Linked DNA regions of Homo sapiens. The protein of the gene in region 5 interacts with the protein of the main gene of each other region in a biochemical or structural test. Each region holds a gene or a part of one and is shown on either strand. Other genes may lie near its edges. The genes, in order: KCTD3, CD226, PLCB2, TECPR2, APBA2, KIDINS220 and ERBB4.

The links.
Region 1: the proteins of APBA2 (region 5) and KCTD3 interact in a test that uses a peptide from one of them, tested with the Homo sapiens proteins (one large-scale study listed by IntAct).
Region 2: the proteins of APBA2 (region 5) and CD226 interact in a test that uses a peptide from one of them, tested with the Homo sapiens proteins (one large-scale study listed by IntAct).
Region 3: the proteins of APBA2 (region 5) and PLCB2 interact in a test that uses a peptide from one of them, tested with the Homo sapiens proteins (one large-scale study listed by IntAct).
Region 4: the proteins of APBA2 (region 5) and TECPR2 interact in a test that uses a peptide from one of them, tested with the Homo sapiens proteins (one large-scale study listed by IntAct).
Region 6: the proteins of APBA2 (region 5) and KIDINS220 interact in a test that uses a peptide from one of them, tested with the Homo sapiens proteins (one large-scale study listed by IntAct).
Region 7: the proteins of APBA2 (region 5) and ERBB4 interact in a test that uses a peptide from one of them, tested with the Homo sapiens proteins (one large-scale study listed by IntAct).

Annotation. Positions count from the first base shown.
Region 1 is NC_000001.11:215,619,304-215,622,307, reverse strand, and holds the end of KCTD3 (BTB/POZ domain-containing protein KCTD3), read right to left. Parts: intron 2,252-3,004; coding exon 1,690-2,251; 3' UTR 501-1,689; downstream 1-500. UniProt on the Homo sapiens protein: Accessory subunit of potassium/sodium hyperpolarization-activated cyclic nucleotide-gated channel 3 (HCN3) up-regulating its cell-surface expression and current density without affecting its voltage dependence and kinetics.
Region 2 is NC_000018.10:69,888,874-69,892,373, reverse strand, and holds part of CD226 (CD226 antigen isoform a precursor), read left to right. Parts: intron 1-3,500.
Region 3 is NC_000015.10:40,301,436-40,304,935, forward strand, and holds part of PLCB2 (1-phosphatidylinositol 4,5-bisphosphate phosphodiesterase beta-2), read right to left. Parts: intron 2,644-3,500; coding exon 2,566-2,643; intron 1,922-2,565; coding exon 1,853-1,921; intron 1,175-1,852; coding exon 1,034-1,174; intron 915-1,033; coding exon 835-914; intron 755-834; coding exon 701-754; intron 598-700; coding exon 522-597; intron 175-521; coding exon of another isoform or gene 157-174; exon of another isoform or gene 1-156. UniProt on the Homo sapiens protein: The production of the second messenger molecules diacylglycerol (DAG) and inositol 1,4,5-trisphosphate (IP3) is mediated by activated phosphatidylinositol-specific phospholipase C enzymes.
Region 4 is NC_000014.9:102,428,941-102,432,440, reverse strand, and holds part of TECPR2 (tectonin beta-propeller repeat-containing protein 2), read right to left. Parts: intron 646-3,500; coding exon 313-645; intron 1-312. UniProt on the Homo sapiens protein: Probably plays a role as positive regulator of autophagy.
Region 5 is NC_000015.10:29,053,474-29,056,973, forward strand, and holds part of APBA2 (amyloid-beta A4 precursor protein-binding family A member 2), read left to right. Parts: intron 1-371; 5' UTR 372-411; coding exon 412-1,362; intron 1,363-3,500. UniProt on the Homo sapiens protein: Putative function in synaptic vesicle exocytosis by binding to STXBP1, an essential component of the synaptic vesicle exocytotic machinery. May modulate processing of the amyloid-beta precursor protein (APP) and hence formation of APP-beta.
Region 6 is NC_000002.12:8,733,114-8,736,613, reverse strand, and holds part of KIDINS220 (kinase D-interacting substrate of 220 kDa), read left to right. Parts: intron 1-1,860; coding exon 1,861-1,959; intron 1,960-2,933; coding exon 2,934-3,170; intron 3,171-3,500. UniProt on the Homo sapiens protein: Promotes a prolonged MAP-kinase signaling by neurotrophins through activation of a Rap1-dependent mechanism. Provides a docking site for the CRKL-C3G complex, resulting in Rap1-dependent sustained ERK activation.
Region 7 is NC_000002.12:212,528,803-212,532,302, forward strand, and holds part of ERBB4 (receptor tyrosine-protein kinase erbB-4 isoform JM-a/CYT-1 precursor), read right to left. Parts: intron 1-3,500. UniProt on the Homo sapiens protein: Tyrosine-protein kinase that plays an essential role as cell surface receptor for neuregulins and EGF family members and regulates development of the heart, the central nervous system and the mammary gland, gene transcription, cell proliferation, differentiation, migration and apoptosis.

The DNA.
Region 1 (3,004 bases), on a different chromosome or scaffold from region 5:
GTAGGTATAATGAAAAAATTAAGGCATAATGGGGGCAATCTGAGAAATTAGTGTCAGAGTAGACAGACATAAACCACTGCATCAAGGTTCAATCTCCTGTAAGCAAAAGAAAGAAACGATTTGACTTGTACTGTAATGCAATCTAGTATAGTCAGTTTCCTTTTTATGCGATTCTATTACATAATAGTTACTATCTTCTTTTTAATGGCCTTTTATTCCTGGTCACTAGAGTCTAGTTTTTTCTTTCATTTTCTTACTTGCCCACCCAACTTTCACATAACTGTCATAAAGAGGAAGAAGGGTGTAAGATAATTACAATCTTAGTAATTTTGAAATTATGCTTTGCCTAATATTTTCTTTCATTGATAATAACTTATTTTCCACATATATTAAGTTCTCCCTCCCCCCATTTTTTTTAAATTATGGGAAGAAGCAAAGAAATGAACAAACATATATAGCACACTTTAAACAGAACTGTTACTTAAATAACTGAAAACGCATTGACATAATCATTTTTATTTGATTTAATTGATAAATAAATACAAGAGAACTGTTGTGAAACCACTGGCAATATAGTAAATTTTAAAGATTTTATTTCAACTTCACTCACTTATATTTCTTGGAATGGGGATATATACATTATTCACCAATAAATGCTAATGCTTTAAATTTACAATTACCCTATTTGTAGAAACCTGAAGATCATTCCAATTAAATGAAAAAAAATTGTACAAAAACGTTCTTTTGCTCTTACAATTCAAAATACATTCAAATTCACATTCTTACAGCAGCCAAAACCTTTAACCCAAAATTCAGAACTGCAGTCCTACAAGTGAACAAACTAGTGTTTTAATTTAATTATCATGATTGTTGTTAACACTGAAAAAAAAACATGGTGGCTCCTGAAACAAGACAGGTTAGCAACTGGTACAGCTTTCCCTTCTGGGCACTCAAAGCTTTGCCCTTGATTATTATTTTTATTTCATCTTTTCAAACACAGACAATTGCTCCAACTTGAAAGTTTCAATGGAATTTTGGCATTTAATATTGCTAATGCTTGCTAAGATTTAAGATCTCCCAATGATGAGAATCAGAAAATGACGCACGACTAAATTAAAATCATCCTAAAAGACTTACTACATAGTGGTATCTGGTATTCAATATCAATAGTGTTTTTGAATTACATGATATGTTTTTCACAAACATAGCACCTCATCAAATATCTGGTAAACACTTTGCAATCACAATAAGTGTTGGGAGACCAAGTTCCAAAGACAATTATGTGATTCACTTAAAGGTAACATTGTAAGACAAGTCTCAGGCATAATGAAGATTAGGAATGCAGTCTGCTGGTTCCCATGATCTAAAGGGATGCTCACCTATATGGGCACCATCCTATTAAGACGTGGTAATATGTTTCCAAACCAAAAAAAGTCGGTAAGTGTTAAAATGGACTCCTGCTTTATAAATGATCTGTTAAATGTACTTGTAAAATTAAAAAAATTTCCAAAATGTCAAAAGAGATATGATTATTGTATCTCATTATTCCAAGTAATTCTGTTAAAAAGATACTAAATGAAGTCCAATTTTATCTTGTAAAGTTTTAGTGTAAAAACTAATGTACTGAAATTCAGTAAAGTTTAACTTTCATCTAAATGTAACGAAACAACTATTCATTTTGGTGAGTTTTCACAAGCTGTACTCCTGACCTGAAGAATCACTTTTTTTATGCCGAGGAGATGGAGTAGTCTTTGTAGGAGATGGGGACGCAGTACCAGGTGAGTCAGTTCCTCCATCGGAAGTACTTGGTGATGACGCCAGATAGGGAACTTTCTTTCTTCCAAGGAATCCTCCCCCTTCAAATCCTCCTTTCTTCCTAAACTCTATTTTATTTTCATTTTCATCTTCTGATGACCTTTTCTTGGATTCTGAAAAACCTTCAGCTATTTTATGCACTTCCAATCCACTATCCAATTCTCTCAAACTTTTTATTTCTACTCCAGGAGACTTTCTCTCAGATATATTACATTCCCCTGTTGCCCCTTTCACTTCAGCTTGTATTGGACCCAAGTTACCATTTTCAGGGACAGCTCTTTCTACATTTCTGTTCAAATTAATAGTCTGGAAGTCCCTATAACTGTGAAAGCTCTCAGTCCTTCTTGCCCTTGCTAATAAAGGACTTTCTCTGTAAGGCCTCATGGAACCGTAAGTAGCTGCTTCATGGGTGGTATCATGGTGCTGAAGCTGAAGGCTGAAATACAGTTTTTAAAAATGACAGTTCAGATTTCACTCTGTGATTTCTCAGGAACATATTAATTATACAACCAATAAAACACACTATATAAATACATAAAGTGTATTATATCCATATTTCTCTTTGTAAAAATATACTTATCAAGTACTCTTTATTATATAGATGGTATATAAAATTACCAATGCAAATAATACCATCATATATTCACAGACATGCTGAATTTTTGAACAGCTAAAAAAAAGATGGGAGGAAAAATCCTTGAAACCAATGTGAAACCATCATAATTCAGTATTTAGCCCTTGGTTCTTCAGACTTTGGAATTTATCAATATGATAACTAAAAAGACATTATGGAACTTTGTATTAAAATTACATAATGCTTAAATGTAAGACTAGACAACATAATAGAACCACAGATAAATATTGTCCCTGAGACAGGACAATAATTAAAGCTTCACATACTAACCAAGGTGACATGTAATTTTCCTAATTTCCTTTGAATAAATTCTTGATCACATAATAGGCTTCCAATTGGGCAGCAATTCACAAAATAAGTTAAAAGGTAAAAATGTTTTTCTATGAAAAGAACCAGATATGCCTATCAAGAAATTTGGTAAAACTGTTAAAAAGTTAACATAATGTCTGAATTTAAAATGTACCTTGAGAAGTATGGCTTTCTAGAACAACTATGTGATTACAATATTTCAGTCAATTTCCCCAAAAGAAATAAATTTTGTTTATAATACCCAAC
Region 2 (3,500 bases), on a different chromosome or scaffold from region 5:
GATTTTCATTTGTCATAAGAGAAGTATTTTAGGTGCCACTAAAATAATTTGTCAAATATTTTAATATTAGCTAAATGATTTGCAGACTACTATTGTTTAAACTGACCTTATTGGCTATAAAAAGAATGAAGGCAAAAGAAATAAAATCAGCTCTTGCAGAAAGTTTCTGGAGGAGGCTAATATTGAAAAAACTTCTGTTTGCTATTGATAAGTATAATTACTCATGTCCTTGTATAATCGTCTTCCACCAGTGAGACCACTCAGGCGGGACCATCAAGGTTCAAATGAGGCATTGATGATTAGAGCTGAGGAATGACATGAAACAGGTTATGAAGAGTAACCCCAAATATGCAGGAGGAATGGGGAGATGGTGCATGGGAGACTGTAGTCAAATGACTAGGTTGGTATGGAGAGTCTAAGTTATGTATTAATATGGGACGAGGTAGGTTAAATTAAGTGATGACAGTGAAAACCTGCATCTCATATAATTGTCAAGCAAAGCTACCATTAGTTCTTGAGCAAAGATGGCAAAACAATAATCATGAAAGAATAAGTTGCTATATGATTTTCAGTGTGCAAGTCTTTAACATTTTTGGTTAAGTTTATTCTTAAATACTTTATTCCTTTTATTGTTATTGGGGATGGGATTTTGTTTTAATTCCTTTTTTGGATAGTTTGCTGTTTGTGTACAGAAACCTGACTGATATTTTATATGTTGATTTTTGTATCCTGCCTCTTAACTGAATTCATTTATTAGTTTGAACAGGTTTTTTTGTGGCACTTTTAGGGTTTTATACATATATGATTATGTCATCGGCAAACAGAGATAATATTACTTCTTCCTTTCTGATTTGAATGCCTTTTGTTTTCTTTTTCTTGTTTAATGGCTCTGATTAAGACTTCTTGTACTATGTTAAGCAGAGGTGTTGAAAGTGGCCACCTTTGTCTTTTTCCTGATCTTAGAGCAAAAGTTCTCAGTCTTACATGACTTGGTATGATGTTAGCTGTGGGCTTTTCATAGATGGCCTTTATTGTGTTGGGGTAAATTCTTTCTGTACCTAATTTGTTGAGAGTTTTTTTTTTTTAATCACACAAGGATGTTGAATTTGTCAAATGCTTTTTATGCTCTATTTTGATGATCATGTGGCCTTTTTATATCACTTTGTTAATGTGGTGTATTACATTGATTGATTTACATATGTTGAACCATCTTTGCATGCCAGGGATAAATCAGAATTGATTAGAATATACAATCCATTTAATGTGATGGTGAATTTAGTTTGCTAGTATTTTGTTGAGGATTTTTTCATCTGTGTTCATTAGGGATGTCAGCCTGTAGGTTTTTTTTTTTTTTTTGTGGTGTCTTTGTCTGGTTTTGGTATCAGGGTGATGCTGGTCTCATAAACTGAGTTTAGAACTGCTTCTTTTTTTAAAAAAGAATTAAATCATTTATTGATTACACATGATAATGTAGAACTGTTTCTAAACTCAGGATTGGCATTAATTCCTAGAATGTTTGATAGAATTCATCTGTGAAGCCACCTGGTCCTGGGATCAGTGATGGGTCATAGGCCACTGATCCACCTACCTTTGTAGGCACAAAGGTGTCCTACACAGGGTAGAGAGATACTGTCAGCATGATTTGAATCTCAGTTTGTGCTTTCCACTGCCTCAAAACACTCACACTTTCCTACTTTCTCCTTTTTCTAACTGACTAAGTTTCCATCACATTTGCTTTCTTTCCTATAGAGTTTCAGCCGTCTCAATGTCTATGTTTTTTTCCACATCAGACCAAACTGCTTCCCCATCATTGAAATATTAAGCATCTTGGATTTCTCAAACTTTTATAGTCTGAAAATTGCTACCCTCGAGTGACTTATTAACTTCCATCTATTTGTATTTATTTATTTATTTATTTTTTGAGACCGGGTTATGAGACTGGCTAATTTTTGTATTTTTGGTAGAGATGGGGTTTCAAGGATGGTCCTGGGCTCAAGCAATCCCCTGCCTCAGCCTCCTAAAGTGCTGGGATTGGTAGTGTGAACCACCACACCTGGCCTGCATCTATTTGTAATGTTCCAAACTCTGGTTATCAGAAATTAATTGAGATTAAGGATTATGGCATCTGCTTAAAGTTGTCAAAGCATCTTTTCAGAATATGCCCAGTAAGTGTTCTTGACCGATTATGTTAATGTTTCTATTCATTCTAGTAGGGGCTGTGTCCATTTTAATTTTAAGTTTTCTACCTCTTTTCTTTCCAGATTTTTTTTCTTCAACGTTTAACCTTTGAGGTTTACTGATTGTTGATCAAAGAAACTGAACTTTCAAAAGATCAACTACAGTGATTGGAGAAAAAACTTTCATGAACTCTTGTTTACATATATAACTTTCAGATAGGGCTATTTACTTTTTTAACTTTCATTTTCTTATTTTGAATTTTTAATATAAGTGGCACATAATTGCTGGTCATCTGAATAGAAGGATGGGATTAGTAAATTAAGATTACAAAACTATTCACTAGGAAATCATAGTGCCACAGCTAAGAGAATCTTCCCAGATATTTCCTCTGGGACGATGTGAGGTATAGGATTGACAAGGAGGAAGGACAGGGGAATAGAGTGCTGTAAGTTATAAATACATCCGTATATAGATGATACATCTTATTTATACAGATTATAAATCTTGCCTGTAGATGGCTTGTGGGAGGTTACTGACTTTGAGACTCTGTGCTCCTGAGTTGGATTATAAAATTATTGAAGAAAGGAAATAAATTTTGCTTATTTCCTTGGCCTTTTATTTCTGTCAAAAACCAACCAGTTTGCTCCCAGTCCATTTGGATTCCAGAAGAGTTTCAGGTTGTAGACAAGACAGTTTTTTTTTTTTTTTAAGGATTCCATTAATCCAGAACCTTCTGTCCCACTCCTATGAATTTAGAATAGATATAAAGCTTGTGGACATGAGGATTGTCTGAACTGGTGTGCACTGGGCTGACAGATATGTCCCTTTCCATGACATTGTGTGGTGAACCTCAGCCTTTTATTATCTTTACCTACATGGAAAGTAAAATGTCCATGACAGTTAATTTATATGATGGAGCAACACGACCAGAATCCCAGAGCACCGTGTCACTGCTCACAAGCTAAAATAACCTCTACTCAAACAGATCAACCACAATTTTCAGCCCAATTTAGTTTTCTCGGTGAAACTGGGTATCCAGATGAAACATAGTTTCCAGCATCACAAGTGAGTTGATTACTCAATCATGGCTATTATGTGGTTGAATCTTTACTTTACTGTTGCCTCTGCCCAGATCATTTTTTTTAATGATCTATTGCATTCAAAAAAATGCAACCGGTCAGTTAATTTGTTTTGTAAGCCCTAGTATTGATCTATTCATTTTTTGAACACACAAAAACCTAGAATGTTTGCCTGCAGTCATTTTTTATACATACTATTATTGTATAGATAAGTAAGATATTGAATAATAGTGATAAGTTATT
Region 3 (3,500 bases), about 11 Mb from region 5:
AAAATTAATTATTTAACTAAAAAGACAGGGAAAAATGCTTTTCTGTACAGAGCAGAAGTCTGCATCTTGGCAGCTTCCGCCTTTGGTTCAGTTCCTCTCCCTCGACACGCTGCAGACTTCCAGATCCCTGCAGACTGCCGCCTGCCACTGCCGACCTTATCTCGCTCCTCCAGGCTGAAAACATTCACGCTCAGCTCCCATTCCCAACACTAGACTGGGAATGCATGCCGTTTCTGCTGCCTGCCCTGAACACAGTCCATCAACCACAGCCCCAGCGCCCCCACCACCCAGGGTAGGGGATACAGACAAACCTGCTTGGAGCTCAGGGTCTCACTCCCTTGCCCTGGCTCCACCCCTGTGCCTAGTGTCAGTAACCAGCAGCTCCAGGGTTGATTGGCTCTCCAGGCTCTTGGCTGGGGCTGTGATGTCACCTCTGCTCCCCCACCCACCATTCCTGGCCAAGTTGCTTTCTGGTGGGGACAAGAATGCTGGGGGATGGGCAGGGGTGCAGATCCACTCACTTTGCCTTTGGGGAGGTGGCAGGCACTGAGAGCAGCTTCCACCCGCTTGCGGTCAGCAGGAAACATCTGGAAAAAGCTGAAGGGGCAGAGAAAGGTACCAGGTACAGAGAGGAGTCAGGCCTGAGAAAGAAAGGCTTTGGGGAGCCCCTGGAAGCCTGGGGAGGGGTTGGGGGGCTCACTTCTTCACCGGAATCTTCCCTTCAGAGTTGAGCTGCATCTTGAGCTTCACAAGGCTGGGGGCAGAAAGCAGCCCGTCAAGGCCCAGGGCTGGCATGCTCAGCACCAGGGCTCAGGCCAGGCAGAGGGCACTTACATCTTGTCCAGGAAGGTGCTGCGGGAGGCGTTGGCCGTCAGCGGATGTTTGACTAGGGCCAGTACGTCCTCAGCCCAGGCCTGCAGGACCACAGAGAGCAGCGGTCAGGCTCCTGAGCACCCCCGCCCAGGCCTGTGTCTCTCAGGAAGTCCAGGCTATCCCAGGGGCCCAGACCCAGGCCCAGTGCTCCCTGGCACACCTTGCCCACGTTCTCCTTGTAGGAGACGAAGTTGTGGAAGGTGAGGTCCACCATGTCCGGGCCGGACACCACCGTGAGTGTCTTCAGCAGGAAACTGTTATCAGGAAAGTCCATGTTGAAGACGTCCCGGAGCTTCTGGCTCTGCAGCACGTGGTGGTATGGTTAGGATGGAGGTGTGCTCCCTCCCTGCCCAGTGTGGCTCTCTCTGGCCCTCCCCTCAGCCACTTGGGCTATGGCCCACTGGGCAGAACCCCATCCCCATCCCAGGAACCACAGGCCTTAGCATCTTCCTGTCCCTGACTCCAGCGGCTGGGATGGGAAGGAGAGGCCCTGAGGAAAAGGTTAGCCAAGATGGCGGGCAGGCGGGGAGGCCGGCCTGGGAGTCCTGTGTGTGTTGGTTGCCACTTTTGTTTGAAGATAGATTCTTAGCTCCCAGTCTCAGGAAACCCCGCTTCCCACCAATCCCTTCCTCCAATTTTCCTACCAGCATTAGGCAAATATAGGCAAACTAGTCCGGGGGTGGGGGTGTAAGCCACCCCTCCCAGACAGACTGGGGTGCTTTAGGGGCAGGAGGTGACCCCTCCTCCCAGATCCCTGCCATCTCAGCTCACTGTGCGCAGTTCTGAAGCTCAGAGCCCAGGCGAGCCCAGGAGCTGCCGCTCCCCTTCCTTGGCTTCCAGCCACGGTCCTTGCTGCCCAGCCAAGGAACCATTCCCCGTGCTTCAGAAGTCAGGCTTCCCACCCGCACAGGGACCCCTGCCCTTGCCCCATGGAGCTAGTAGCTGTGCTTGAGCCTGGGCTGCTACTGGACACACCTACCTTGGGCATCTTGGCAAACTTCCCAAAGCGAGTATCCCGGATGCTGGTGATATCCAGAAACTCCATCTCCTGGGGGCAGGGTGCGGATCCCGGTGGGAGCAAAGAAGGGATGTGGGACAAAAAGTCCAGGTCAAGAATGAGCAATAGGGAGAAGGGAGCTTCCACACCCTTCAAATCTTGGCCAACACCTCTCTCTAGATGCCAGGCTGCCCAGGGCCAGCTGGACCCAAACTTCCCTTCCTATGGCCCAGGTTCTCTCTATTCATGCAGATCCTCCTCCCTTTCCCTCTGTCCATTCCTCCCTGGCAGGGAGCTGGAGCCTGCAGTGTCTCCTCCACCATCCTGGACCCTTCCCAGCTTCCCCTTCCCGTCCTCCTGCCCAGAGGCTGGGGCCTATCTCTCATCTCCCAGAGCCCCAAGTCAACCCACAGCCACAGGCAGAGCATCAGCCTTCAGCAGCAGTGCTTTCGCCTGTCTCTCTCTCTCCCCAAGGGATGCTAAGGATGGAACATTTGGGTAGCCACAGGTTGGAGTGACTGCATCCTCCTTTCCAGAGCAAAGAGCCCCTGCCTACAGGGGAGCCTCTGGAGCCACCCTTCCAGGCCATTCTGTACTCCCCAGCATCCATGCCTCCACCTTGGTGCAGCCAGGGGGCTGTCTGGCCTCAATGATAAGCAGGAGTCCAGGGCCATGGCACACAAGGGTTTTCTCACCTTACTTTGATACGTCCAGTATAAGTAGTAGCCCTTAGGATCCACACGGAGGATAACTGGAGAGGCAACTGTAGTTTCCTGCAGAGAGAAGGAGCCAGCACTCTGTTCCAAGACCTCAGGCCAAGCCTCCCTGGTCCAGGCCAGGGGTTTCAGAGCTCATTATCTTCCCAGGAGGTGCCCATCCCAGAAATCTGAAGGCATTTCCTTTTGTTGTCTAGAGCTAAGCACCAGGAGGGACAGAGGATTGGGGATGCCATTTCTGGAAGAGAAGGGTTTTCCCCTCTAAAGCCCAAATAGACATTCTCCCTCTAGACCCTAAAGAGGATCTTGGCCCCTACCTCATCTCATAGAGCGAGACTCCCTACTGCCACCCAGGAGAGATTGACACAGCGAGAGCCAAGAGCCCAAACTCCTGCACCAGCATCCAAGGCCCTGCACAATCCAGATGCAACCTAACCTCCCATATGCCCCTTCTTCCCTCCATGAACACCTCCTACCCTGTCCATTCAACTGTCCCATAAAGATACCAAGCCTTCCCACCTCCAAACCTAAGTGCCCAAATCTCCTCTGCTTGAAATAACTTCAAGGACAACCCAAGCCCCCCAACTTCTGAAAACCCTTCCTGAAATGTGCTACAGTAACCGGGGGGATGTGAGTCACAGACCTACAAGCCCACCTAGGAAATCCCCAGGGACTCATGGACTCCAGGACAACAAGCCTGTGCTAGACCTTGAGCTTGGTGCTTGGTGCTTGGCACTTGAATGTGGTGTTTGCTGAATGAGCAAATGAATGAATGAATGAATGAATGAACTCACCTTCTAAAGTCCTGTTCCACTCACTGACAGAGCACATAGGCTACCTTTTAGTTTAACGGTCTTTGTATGTGTACATAACAAGATATTAAAATTAAGGTTTCCAGCAAGGCACAATAGTTG
Region 4 (3,500 bases), on a different chromosome or scaffold from region 5:
CGCAAAAAATAAATAAATAATATAAATACATAAATAAATATTGAAAAGTACAAAACTGAGACCCTTTAAGCAGGGTGGTGAGTACACACAGGTGTTCTGTCATCATTTAGACCTTACAGTGTGTGTGTGTGTGTGTGTGTGTATTTTCCGTTAATGTGAAGTATTTTGCAGTAAAACTCCTTTGGGGAAGAAATGTATGTGTTCTCTGCTTTTGGATGTATGGAGCATTGCTCACTCAGTGAGCAGCAGCACTCCCAGAGAATCTGGAAAGACTGTAACCCCAGATGGGTGTGTGCCAGCTACAGAGGGTACCTGTCTTCTTCTTCTTCTTCTTCCTTTTCACTTTGATAGGCTTCACGACAAGCTCCTGGTCAAAGTCCTCTGAGCTGATGGCGTTGAATCTCTGTGACAGGGGCTGGCTGCCCTTGCCCAGCTCAGGGGTGGCCTGGAGCCCAGGGGGCAGGAGCCCGGAGCCGCTGTCGGTGGAGTTGAGCGAGCTGCTCCTGCTCCTTGGCTCGCTGGCCACGGAGCTGGCCATGGAAGAGCCTCTGAGCCTCGTCTCAGAAACTGTGGCCCCTGGCAGCTTCTCCGCTTGCTGCACGTGGACACGCTCTGAGCATCCAGACATCTCCAGACCATCTCTCACTAAGAAAGAAGAGTCTGGTTTTACCACTGGTGATCCAAGAGAGAGCTGATGTGCACTTATCCACGTTTGCTAGCCCTAAATACCAGTTGTCACAGAGGCACCAGCCAGCTAAAGAACTGAATGATTCTAAATTCATAGAAACCAGCAAAACTAGGATGGGCACGGTGACTCACGCCTGTAATCCCAGCACTTTGGGAGGCCAAGGCGGGCGGATCACAAGGTCAGGAGATCAAGACCATCCTGGCTAACACAGTGAAACCCCGTCTCTACTAAAAATACAAAAAATTAGCCGGGCATGGTGGCGGGCGCCGGGGGTCCCAGCTACTTGGGAGGCTGAGGCAGGAGAATGGTGTGAACCTGGGAGGCAAAGCTTGCAGTGAGCCGAGATTGCGCCACTGCACTCCAGCCTGGGCAACACAGTGAGACTCCGTCTCAAAAAAAAAAAAAAAAAAAATCCACCAAAACTAAAAGAATCATACAAAAGACTCTAAGAAACAGTTTTTGTTCTTCAAGAAGCTCATATATTAAAATCAGTAAAATAATTTGCCATAGCTTTCTTTTTATATTTATTTATTTATTTATTTTTGAGACGGAGTCTCAAAATTTAGCAGGGTGTGGTGGTGCACGCCCATAGTCCCAGCTACTTGGGAGGCTGAGGTGGGAGAATCATTTGAGCCTGGGAGGTGGAGGTTGCAGTGAGCTGAGATCATGCCACTGCACTCCAGCCTGCACGACAGAGTGAAACCTGTCTCAAAAAAAAAAAAAAAAAAGTAAAAAAATACTAAGAATACAGCATTTCTCGCTTCAATTTACAAATTATTTACAAATGAGAGATGCCTGTGTATAACAAAACAGCTTAGTTATACTTCATACTAAGACTCTGCCTTGAATATACTTTAAGATTACTCAAAGGGCATTTGAAAAATACATGTGTACCTGTAATTAAGTTTCCTGGAAGAGGGAAAGGTAATTTTCCATTAGAACAAACTCAAGACAGAGAAGTCCATTACCACACAGCATCAAGGCCAGTAGACCGCAGAGTGAGAACAGGCATGTGAGTACCTGTCTCCTGTCCCCAAGCCCAAGGGCCAGTGAGCTTCCCACTGCAGTGGACTCATCTTTTCTGCAACACGACACCACAGGGCACAAGGCCAGAGCAGTTCCAGCTACAGTACCCTCAACACAAGACCACAGCCCACTTTGATCCATTCGCCATCCTCTCTTTATCGGGGATCCTCCGTGTGCCAGACACAGGGCTAGCTGCTGGGACATGGCAGTCCATAAGACACAGGAATTCCTGCCCTTGAAGCACCCACATTCTATTGAGGGCATGTGTTAGGGGCAGACTGCAGGCAATGAAGTGTACACTGGAGACTGGAGGGGAGGACTCTGCTGTGAAGCGACTTGCTGAAGATTACATAACTTAATGGCAGATCTTGCCTAGAGCTCCCTGTCCAATAGGCAGCCACCAGCTACTTGTAAGTATTGAAATTCAAATTGATCAAAATTGAACAAAATTTAGGCTGGGCGCGGTGGCTCATGCCTGTAATCCCATCACTTTGGGAGGCTAAGGTGGGAGGACTGCCTGAGCTCAGGAGTTCGAGACCAGCCTGGGTAACATGGTGCATGGTGAAACCCCCTTTCTACTAAAATACAAAATATTAGCCTGGTGTGGTGGTGCACACCTGTAATCCCAGCTATTCGGGAGGCTAAGGCAGGAGAATCGTTTGAACCCAGGAGGTGGAGGTTGCAGTGACCAGAGACTGCACCACTGCACTCTAGCCTGGGATACAGAGCAAGACTCTGTCTCAAAAAATAAAATAAAATAAAATAAAAATTAAACAAAATGTAAAATTCATCTCTCAGCTGCACTTGCTATATTGCAAGTACTCAGCAGCCACACATGGACAGGGACTGCCTACCAGACAGGGCAGATGGGAGCATCTTCATCACTGCAGAAAGCTCTATGGGCAGCAGAGGTCCAGAGCTTAGCCTGGTGGCTCCAAGTCACCACCCTTCCTGAAAGCCATTCTAACCCTTTGATGACACTGTCTGAGGGGCCCCCAGCTCATAAACTCAAGAGTCAGAGCTTATTCACTTCTTATACAAATTATGTTTTGGAATATTCACCCCAATTTGCCCTCTCTGACATCAGAGGTAATGGTAGTGAGGAGGAGGGTGATGGGGTCCACATGGCTGTTGTTGCCACCATGAGGAACAAGTTCCCCGAGGAACCCAAATATATAAAGCATGTGGATGTCCGCAAGAGGACACATATTAGGATTCTTTGCTCATTAAAATTTGGGCTTGTATGAATTACCAAAAAATGTCAAAAGCACAGAGAAAAATAAATCCTACAAGGAAGAACTGAGTTAAGGGTAAACGGTATGTCCCAGATGACAGATTTAAATATTCTAAAACTCTATGCAAATCTATGTCTTTTGGAGCATTAATCCCACATACTGTCTCAGACGGAGAGCAGGGATCAGTAAAGTGGTTTCTGATTTTTCCTTCCTCCTTTCTCAATCTCCCCATCTTCCACAACCATGAAAGCAACTCCACTAAATGTGAGACTATCTGATGTAAGCCTTAAAGTAGGTGACTTTCAAGAAATGTACTGTAAATGCTATTTTAACAATCAGAGGAGCGGCCGGGCACAGTGGCTCACGCCTTTAATCCCAGCACTTTGGGAGGCGGAGGCAGGCGGATCGCCTGAGGTCGGGAGTTTGAGACCTGCCTGACCAACATGGAGAAACCCTGTCTCTACTAAAAATACAAAATTAGCCTGGCATAATGGCGCATGCCTGTAATCCCAGCTACTCAGGAGGCTGAGGCAGGAGAATAGCTTGAACCT
Region 5 (3,500 bases):
CTCATTTTCTTCGTGAGAGCAAACAACCTGATCTTCTGACCATTTGTCTTGGTCACCTGGGCTACCCAAACTGAGTGAGAAGTCAGGAATGAGCCGGTAGGTTCCTGGGGAGAGGCGTGTGTCCTCGTGAGTTGCCGGTGCCTCCCTTGACTGCTTTTCCCGGAGCTCTGTGTGCCCTCGTTCTCCTTGGTGTGGATGCGTGTTGTTCTGATGATGAGTTAGCGGGGGTGGGGATGGCGCACTGTTTGAACAGATGTGCCCTCACATGGCTGCGGGAGGACGTGGTGGGAGGTGCTGTGGTGAAGTGGCCCCACACATGGCTGGGCTTTGTGGGGTTTTGACTCTGTCCTTCCCAATGTTCCTCCCCACAGTGGCTGCCTCCGGGTGATGATGGCTGTGTGAACGACTGCCATGGCCCACCGGAAGCTTGAGAGCGTGGGGAGCGGCATGTTGGACCATAGGGTGAGACCAGGTCCTGTCCCTCACAGCCAGGAGCCCGAGAGCGAGGACATGGAGCTGCCCTTGGAGGGCTATGTGCCCGAGGGCCTGGAGCTGGCTGCCCTGCGGCCAGAGAGCCCCGCGCCAGAGGAACAGGAGTGCCACAACCACAGCCCCGATGGGGACTCCAGCTCTGACTACGTGAACAACACCTCTGAGGAGGAGGACTATGACGAGGGCCTCCCTGAGGAGGAGGAGGGCATCACCTACTACATCCGCTACTGCCCTGAGGACGACAGCTACCTAGAGGGCATGGACTGCAACGGGGAGGAGTACCTGGCCCACAGTGCACACCCTGTGGACACTGATGAGTGCCAGGAGGCGGTGGAGGAGTGGACGGACTCGGCGGGCCCGCACCCCCACGGCCACGAGGCTGAAGGCAGCCAGGACTACCCAGACGGCCAACTGCCCATTCCGGAGGATGAGCCCTCCGTCCTTGAGGCCCATGACCAGGAAGAAGATGGTCACTACTGTGCCAGCAAAGAGGGCTACCAGGACTACTACCCCGAGGAGGCCAACGGGAACACCGGCGCCTCCCCCTACCGCCTGAGGCGTGGGGATGGGGACCTGGAGGACCAGGAGGAGGACATTGACCAGATCGTGGCAGAGATCAAGATGAGTCTGAGCATGACCAGCATCACCAGCGCCAGTGAGGCCAGCCCCGAGCATGGGCCTGAGCCAGGGCCTGAGGACTCTGTAGAGGCCTGCCCACCCATCAAGGCCAGCTGCAGCCCCAGCAGGCACGAGGCGAGGCCCAAGTCGCTGAACCTCCTTCCCGAGGCCAAGCACCCCGGAGACCCCCAGAGAGGCTTCAAGCCCAAGACCAGGACCCCAGAAGAGAGGCTGAAGTGGCCCCACGAGCAGGTAGGACCCTGGCTGTCCTGGGGAAGGGAGCAGAGGGGCCCGAGAGCAAGGGACCTCAGGGTACAGGCCTTGCAGATGCTGAAGCGAGGCGGTGGGGGGTGCTGGGTGCCTCACAGTTCTAATGGTGGCTGAGCTCTTCATTGGTCCAGTTGGGAGACATGTTGCGTGGATGCTCCGGCCACTCTTAAGCTCACCGCTCAGACTCAGGACTAAAGCCGGTTGAGGGCTGAGTGGCAACTCGTGTCTCGCAGAAGACACCCCTCCTCCCACCCTAGAAGAGAGGTTCGATTTCTTGCCCACTGCCCTGGTCTGCTCATGGTGGGGCAGTATGTGTGGGAGAGCCCCTCAATCCTCAGGGGTGTACTCAGACCAGCAGGGCAGTGGCAAAGACGTGGGGGTGCTGGTGCTCACCCACTGCTGCGGCCAGTGTTGGGTGGCCTGGTGGCTGGGGTCGGGGCCAGAGTGCATTTCACAATGGACGGGTCTCTGAAAGCCCGGGGGCCTTGGCCTGATGGGCAATCAGCTGTGAATACCTATTTGGAAAAGGATTTTTTGAAGGTTTGACAAAACCTCGGGGAAGAAACGCATGCTAATGAGGGCAGTGGATGTCAGCATAACTGTATTTTAATTATAGCAAAGTCAGCGTGCATTCTAATAAACACATTTGAAAAGCCACCTTCCAAAAAAAGCCTCACTGTGAGTATATAAAGAAGATGTGATTATTGGACTTGTGTGAAGGAACTTCTATTTGGCCAATTATGTGGACTTCTGTCATATTTTTTTACAGCCTTAACTGTTAAATATTTTTTTCCGAGAAGAGTTCATGAATTTGAGTGTGTGTGTGTGTGTGTGTGTGTGTGTGTGTGTGTGTGTGTGTACTGAGAGCTTGGGTTTGGAATGGAAATCATTGGATTTTCAGCACTTATATTTTAATTGACTCCTGGATTTTCAGCACTTGTATTTTAATGTCTTGTATTCTCTCTAAAGAACGTTAAGTGTCAGTTGACTTCACTTTGGGGGTGTTCCTGTCATTCACAGCAATTCCGTGTTTACAGGGGGCTGTGGGATGCATAGGAGCTCCCATGGTACTAGTGGGTGTTGGGAGAGTTCACCCCTAAGGCCAGGAGGCTCTGGACCCTGGGTCTGGGCTTTAGGCCAAAGCAAAGTGTTTCTTTGGTCTTTAGCAGGGCCTGGGCTTGTCCCACAACAGTGGTGAAGGCACCTCAGGGATTGACGTGGGCTGTGCAGAGCGTGTGACATGCTGCGTCTTATTGTGACAAATGGCATCGCTAGCCAAGTTCTTGTCAAAGAAGATTATCTTTAGAGCGTGGTGGGGAGTAAGCAAGACCTGATATTTTCTGGTTTTGTGCTTCATGCTAACCAGATGGTAATTTGGGTAAAAACACAGAGATCTTGCGATTGGAGAGCTGGGAGGTAAATGAGTGGGAATGAATGGATGGATGGGTGATAGTAGCTGTTTAAAAGGGCAGGTGGAGGTAGGGGAAGTCCCCAGCCATTGTGGAGGATCAAGAGGATGTCTGTTCTTCCCAGAAGAGGCATTGAATGAAAAAGTATGTCACTTCTCCCCCTAAGGAGAATGTGTCCTTGAAGGACATGCTCTTGTCTGAGACACTGGAAAAGTTCATTTAAACTGGTTAATGATTGTATAGCTTTTGTTTTGTTTTGTTTTTCCCTCCCTCCCTCCTTTCTGTCCTTTCCTCCTTTCCTCCCTTCCTCCCTTCCTCCCTCCCTCCCTCCCTCCCTCCCTCCCTCCCTCCTTCTCTCCCTCCCTCCCTCCCTCCTCTCTCTCTCTCTCTCTCTCTCTCTCTTTCTTTCTTTCTTTCCTATCAGTTCACAAATTAATTCTGTCAAGGGGAACACCTGCTAGTTCCAGAGTTCCAGGCTGACAAGTACCCTGGTGCCAGGGGCCCTGACTACTCTTTCTGAAGACTCTACCAGGCCCGCTGCACGTGGGCAGGGTCTCCACATTCTTAGATTTGAGTACCCCATTCCAGATGAGGACCTCTTTGAAACCTGACCAGAAAGAGCCGTAGAATTCATCTTGAAAGCAAGATTTTTTATGAAGGATGTGCACTGGGAGATTTGGTGCTGCCTTGCTTGAAATAACAACCTGCTTT
Region 6 (3,500 bases), on a different chromosome or scaffold from region 5:
AAGAATGCCTTGATGAGAAAGAGAAAGCTCTGAGGGATTCCCATTGGGATAAACAGAACTCATCTTTCCAGTGTGGAACCGAAAACCTTTGTGTTACATTTTTTTCTAATTGTAATATTTGTTAGTGTGATTTAGTGATTATCAAAGTAAGCCACACTTGCCTCATTTTCTCCAAATTCTCATTTTCATGTCATGTAGGACTTAGGATCATGTCACATTTGATGAAACCACATAGGTTTGGGTTTGCAAGGTTAATGCATTTGCATAGTTTTTTTTTCTTCTAAGATCCTATTGCAATTCTAGCAGCTATCAGGAAGTTGGCTAGAGATGCCTGAGATTTGGGGGAAGGTTTTAACGAAGTCTTTATAGTAGGTATTTCACTAAGGTATACTTTTTATATCAGAGTACTGTGTAATAAAGTAGAACGTTAATAACCAGCCTCTAATATTTATATACTTGAAAGAATGACATCTGAGAGAAGTTTTTTAAAGAATTATGAGCATATGTAGACACCATTTTACTCATCTCAGCCAATTTTAGAAAGGTTTCAGATAATGTCAGTTTCCTTACAGAGCTGGCTCGTGCTAGTCCCTGTTTGCATGAGTCAAACACCGGCTTTTCCATGGATAAGCCCCACTTTCTCCTTCAGGCAGCTGGTTGGTGTCAGGAAAGAGCGGGGTCTCCCACACGAGTCCTTTGTGATGATTTTGTTCCCATCGGGGTAGTGGTTTTCTCCCCACTCAGCTCTTTGCTCCTAGACCCCGGCTTTCTGAAGCCCCTCAGAGCCGCTGGCCTCCTCCGTGCTTAGGGCTCCGCGGCATTGTTGCAGCAGGACCTCTGTCACAGACTTGCTGTGTATACTGTTTTCTTCAGGATTAACTTGGAAACTGAACATTCTATTGATTATAAACATAGCTATTTCATAAATTTGCCCCAGTTAATAAAGTCAGGTTTTACATTTTATAAAAGCAGTAAGCTACCTATTATTAATAAAGAAAATGCTGTTGTTTCATTTAGGGGAAACTAGAATTACAGGGAACCAAAAGTAATAACTTCCTTTTTTATGATTTTTTTTTTCTTTGAGATGGAGTCCTGCTATGTCACCCAGGCTGGAGTGCAGTGGCGTGGCCATGGCTCACTGCAACCTCCCGCCTCCTGGGTGCAAGCGATCCTCCTGCCTCAGCCTCCCAAGTAGCTGGGACTACAGGCATGTGCCACCACTCCCAGCTAATTTTTGTAGTTTTAATAGAGATGGAATTTCACCATGTTGGCCAGGCTGGTCTCGAACTCCTGACTTTAGGTGATCCACCCACCTCAGCCTCCCAAAGTTCTGGGATTACATGCGTGAGCCACCGCGCCGGGCCTTGTGAATTTAATAGACTGGAAAATTAGTGGGTGGGCATTCTTCATATCTGTATCTAATATAACGGATAAACAAGTTTGCCAGGCCTACTTCATTTAGAACGTTGTTAGTGACCAACACGCTTATGAGAACAGATGTCTTTGTCCCCTCCCAGCAGCTTGTGTTCATGTTCATATTTTCTAAGATTAGAAAACAAAAACTAACAGTTTTGTTGTTGCTCATGACAGCATAGGTAGTTTTGGAAATAGGAGGGTTAGTTCTTCGGTTGGTCCCAGAAAATGCCTAAGACATTTGGGAAAATATGAAGTGGCTGATGTTGTTCAAATTCAGCTTGTTTATTGTATTATTATATGGGATGATAACCTTTTTTTTGGTCAGCCTTTCTGGTCTCTAGAGACTTATTTAAAACTAAATATAAGCATACTTGGCAATCACTAGTAATTCAGAATATTTCACATTCTGTCTTTATACCCATAATTGTTTTAATTTTTACTCAGGCAAACATAAATGGCCGTGTGTTAGCTCAGTGTAACATTGATGAGCTGAAGAAAGAGATGAATATGAATTTTGGAGACTGGCACCTTTTCAGAAGCACAGTAAGATATTTGTAACATTGTGATGTTTACAACATTATTTTATGATAACATTCAAAATTATTTATAACATTGTAGAAAACCAGTATCAATAAGTACTGGCCTAAACTGGTATTTTTTTCATATTTTTTTAAATTTAAAAACTGCTTCTTACACTTATGTGCAATCCTGTGTTGTGGAAAATACACACAGCAGCACTTGGCAGCCTTTGCCTTTTTGGGCATTTCACTCAGAGATTTGGGGAAGAGGCCGCCTGCCGGTTCTTCATGCTTTCACCTGCCTTAACTCTCATCAGGCTCCTCAAAGCCTTCGAGGCCTTGACCTTCAGCATTCATCCTTATAGGGCTTGCATTGCCCAGGTTTAGCAAGAATCCTGTTAAGTCAGTTTACATGTGTGATCACCCTCAGTATTTGATCAAACGCCTCACTAACCCCCCCACCCCCAGGTGATGTCGGCTCACCCTGGCCATCGGCGTACCAAGAGTCCCCCACTCCTGCTGCCTCCCCTTAGTAATGTTCCATCCACGACCCCCACCCTGCCCCTTGGTGGTAGATCCCCACTCATTCGTGCTTATTCCGAGTTGGACTCCCTTCTGTAGTGAGACTGCTTACCCCTGTTGCCATAGTTCTGAATAAAATCTGGACCTACCGCCCTACTCCTGGCCAGCTCTGGTTTTGACACAAGCCAGCTGCATTTTTCTTTGTCCTCAAGTTAAGTTTTAAACAGAAGTAATAATTTAATGGACAAATTGCAGTGTAGTATATGTATGGTGGTTTCTACCATTGCTTCCTTTAGTATTAATGAACATGAAAGATAAGCTGATGTATAAAACAAATTCACTAGAAATTCACTTACCAGAAGTATGCTTTCTCATTGCTGTTGCAATAGCTTTATAATGTTTGGTATTTCTAAATATTTCTAAAGCTTCTAAAATATGATTTGTTAGTGTAAATATTTATGTTTTTCTTCTGTTAAGGTACTAGAAATGAGAAACGCAGAAAGCCACGTGGTCCCTGAAGACCCACGTTTCCTCAGTGAGAGCAGCAGTGGCCCAGCCCCGCACGGTGAGCCTGCTCGCCGCGCTTCCCACAACGAGCTGCCTCACACCGAGCTCTCCAGCCAGACGCCCTACACACTCAACTTCAGCTTCGAAGAGCTGAACACGCTTGGCCTGGATGAAGGTGCCCCTCGTCACAGTAATCTAAGTTGGCAGGTATTTATTGAATGGCATTTTTCATATTATTGAAGAATAAGCACACCGTTCAGTTCACTGAGATTATATGGGCATTTAGACAGTCATTCAGAAAATGCTTACTGAATACCTAAGTGAACAGGAGACAAGATGGAGGGCTCCCTGTACTCAAGGAGCTGCATCCATGTGGAGAGGGGCAGTCAGTGAAACAAACAAAAAAGTAGCTCATGTAGACATTGATGAGAGCTGAGATATCCATCAGGGTCACAGCATGCAGAGTCAATAGGGATTAGGCCACTTGAGCTAGGGTGGTCAGCAAATTCAGCCTTTCTCAGGCGATCTTCCTGTTGC
Region 7 (3,500 bases), on a different chromosome or scaffold from region 5:
GAGCAACTAAGAGAATCCCCATCACCTCTCAGTTCAGTTATACTGCAAGTGCTTCCTTTATAGGATCCTTTTAAAATGGTAAGCATATGTCTAGTTGTCTATTTTAAGATACTGAGAAATCTTAGCTATAACAAAGTTGTATTATCACATATATCTAGGAATAGAAAATGCCAGATTCTATCTGGAACCCTTTTTCATGAAATATTTATTAACATTTTATCTGGAGGCAAATATTCCTCCCAAGAGTCTGCAAAATCACTTAATAACATATTTTTGTATTGTGTTTTATTGGCCTCATCTATTCTTCTTTAAAGAAAGAAAAAGCTGGCATCTTGAGCTTCTTATATTTCCTCTTCAGTTCCTAACATGGTCCTGAAATACACACTGGTGGATCAGTACATGCTTATTGCTTAAATTGATTAAATGTTTAAATGGCAGATAAGTAAGAAATAGCAAAATAATAGCCATTAACATTAAAATACTGAACTACAAAATATTTACATGTTTAAAAGTGGTATCCACATTCCACATATATTTAACTTGCCAGAAATAAAACCAACAGAAATTGCACCATATTTATGGGTAGATTCTAAAAATGGGGATAGGGATGAATGATAGCGTCTTAGAAACACACCACTTGAAGAAATACCCTAGGAAGCTCAAGAAAGCAACTAAAGAAATTTGCAGGGTAAACATGCCCAATAGCTATTATTAAGAATTCTATAATTATGTTATTCAAACAGCTTACTTTGTGCACTATATGGTTTAATTACAAATAATAACCATTCATGAACGAGCTTAAAATTGTTCCTGCAAATGTATGCTATTCATTCATGTAAAAAAAATTTTTAAAGAGCTTATATGTATGTGGCACCACATTAGTCTCTGCAGAGTATAAAAACATTGGTACTTAAAAAGTCAAAACTATTGGTTGGTTTGATTAAATGCCAGATAAGTGATATTGATAAGGACTACTGGCTAGAGTAGCCAGTGAAGGAAGATGTAACAAAGACGTATAATTTAAAGTAAAACTTAAAAGATTCAAAAGTTTGGCCAAGTAAAAGCACCAAGTAAGCCACAAATTCCAGGAAAAGGGATCAGCAAAAGTAAGGACAATAAGGAAGGCATAGTCATGAGATATTGACTAGGTCAGTCTGGTTTTTAGACAGAGTACATGTTAACAGACTCTATGATGGATTTAAAAAGAAATTGAAGACAGTTTTAGCAGGCTTTGAACATTACAAGAGGGATCCATGAAAAGTTTCAGAATAAAAACTAAGATAATATTAGAAATGGTAATCTGACAGTGACAGGAAGGAGATTTTAGAGGTTTGAGGACGTGGAAGAAGAAGAATACCCATAAAGAGGATCTTGCAATAACCCTGCCTGAGGTTTCTAAGGACCAGATGATGCTTATAAAAATCTTGGGGAGTAGCTTTTAACATACCTATGCAGTCAACTTTCCTTTAAAACAAACTTATTTAACTGCTCTGTTCTAGACAAAATTACCAGACAAAAGGAATTCCTGAAAATGAAAGTATGTGTATAAAAGAAATATTATCCTGTTGTATTTTTATTTGGTTTTCATAGGTCCCTATAGAAACCCATATTCTCACATTCTTTAAGCCTACAGAGAAGGACAGGAAATAATGACAAAGATTTCAGTAAGAGTTTGCCTAGAGCAAAATAGTCACTGCCACCCATGATCTCTATTAGGCATCCCCTTGATAGTGATTGGGACCCATCCTGAAATAGAAGACTGTGCCACTTATTGCTCAAGTCACAGCTATACTTGATATAGTCACAGAGCCTGGAGAATCTGTTGTCAATTATTTTCAGTCCTAACCAGCCATGAGATAACCCCAGCAGAGGAGAGAAAACAAGCACACGCATTTTTTGAAAGCAGGTTTATGATCCCCACTTGTATTCAAAAGATTAACACTTGGATATCCACCTATACTAGAAGCACATGGGACCAGGAGTAAGTAAAGGTCAGCAGAGCAGTAAAGATTTAGCAGGTGAAACCGATTGTTTACAAGTCTAATCTTTGTGGAAAATAAAAGAGTGTTTATTGTACCATTCACTTTCTTCTCTTTCAACACATTTAAACTATGTTCGAAATGAAATATATTATAAATCTTCAATCGGTCTTGAGTCCTTTTAATTTAACTCTCAGGACTCAGAAACTGGATCTTGCATATTCCTATTGGTGTTTAGTACGCTTCAGTAACCCCTACAATATTGGAAATAATGTGATTAATAGTAATGATCCTGTGTTACTTCTCATGGGAGAGGCTTAATGATATTGCACAGGAAGTTTCATGGTGTTTATGTTAATCTTTTACGGGGGTCCACTTTCATCTCCAATTTCTATCAGGAAATGACTCTTCTTGCCAAAACAAGTTTCAAACTTCCCTTCTTTCACATGGGCCCATGAGAACACTTATCATGCCCAAGACGGCTGAGGCACATGAGGGAACTCAGCTACAACCAGAGAGCATTAAGTTTAGGTCAAAAATATTGCAGTCAAAAGGCCCAGAGGTAGCATCTTACAGAAGCCAACTAGAGTGAGGCAAAGGTGCTATAGAAATAAATTTATAGTCAGTACTTAAAGCTTTGCTTATGCTCTTGCTCAAAGAATAGAACTATGTCTTAGTTAGGGCCATGATGAAAGAGGATGGCCCAACAAAGACCATAGAAATTATCATTTCATGTCATATCTTAGGTCCAAGGACAGGCCTAGATGAATCTGAAGTATTCTCATGGATTTCCTGGTTAAAGGTCTCCATCAACTAACTGGTGATGAGGAACCCACTGTTTATCCTTTACAATCCATCTTATTTCAGCATTCATAGTACTTATTTTAAAAATGAAAAAATAAGCATTTTCTGCTGACTGGACATCTTCATAAAGCCCAGGTTAAAAAAAAACAAAAAGAAAGAAAAGAAACTCTTAAAAGTGCTATTATATACAGATAGTACTGTGGGCTCCTGTGTGACTTTTAGGGAATTCAAGATTCTATGTCTCCATAGGCCTAACCAGGTAAAGAAATCCTCTTATAGAACGATGTCTTTAAAAAGTTGCTTTATTTCTTTACTCCTCATGTGCCATAACTTATCAATGCAATCAATGATTACTCTCCAAATATAAATTAAAGATGATCATGAGGATCCCACTGTCTTTCTTTTAGAAAGAACTACACAATATGGTAATTAGGAGTGTGGATCCAAGCCATTTGTCTTCATTTCAGTTTCTCAATTCTCTTTAATGCAACATAACCTTTTATTTGTTTCCTTATTTTTTTATGTGTCAGTGGTTTTTCAAATACTTCTATGTGTGCTACAGAAAATGATATTGGTGTCAGGAGCTGCCACTAGTTTATATTATCTAATTTCCTTGCGCTGTCAGTTTCCTTACCTAAAACATAAGATGACTGGATTACATCAGTGGTTTCTAGTGCCGGACTTCTATGACACCAGTGCAGGAGAGTAGAGGCAACA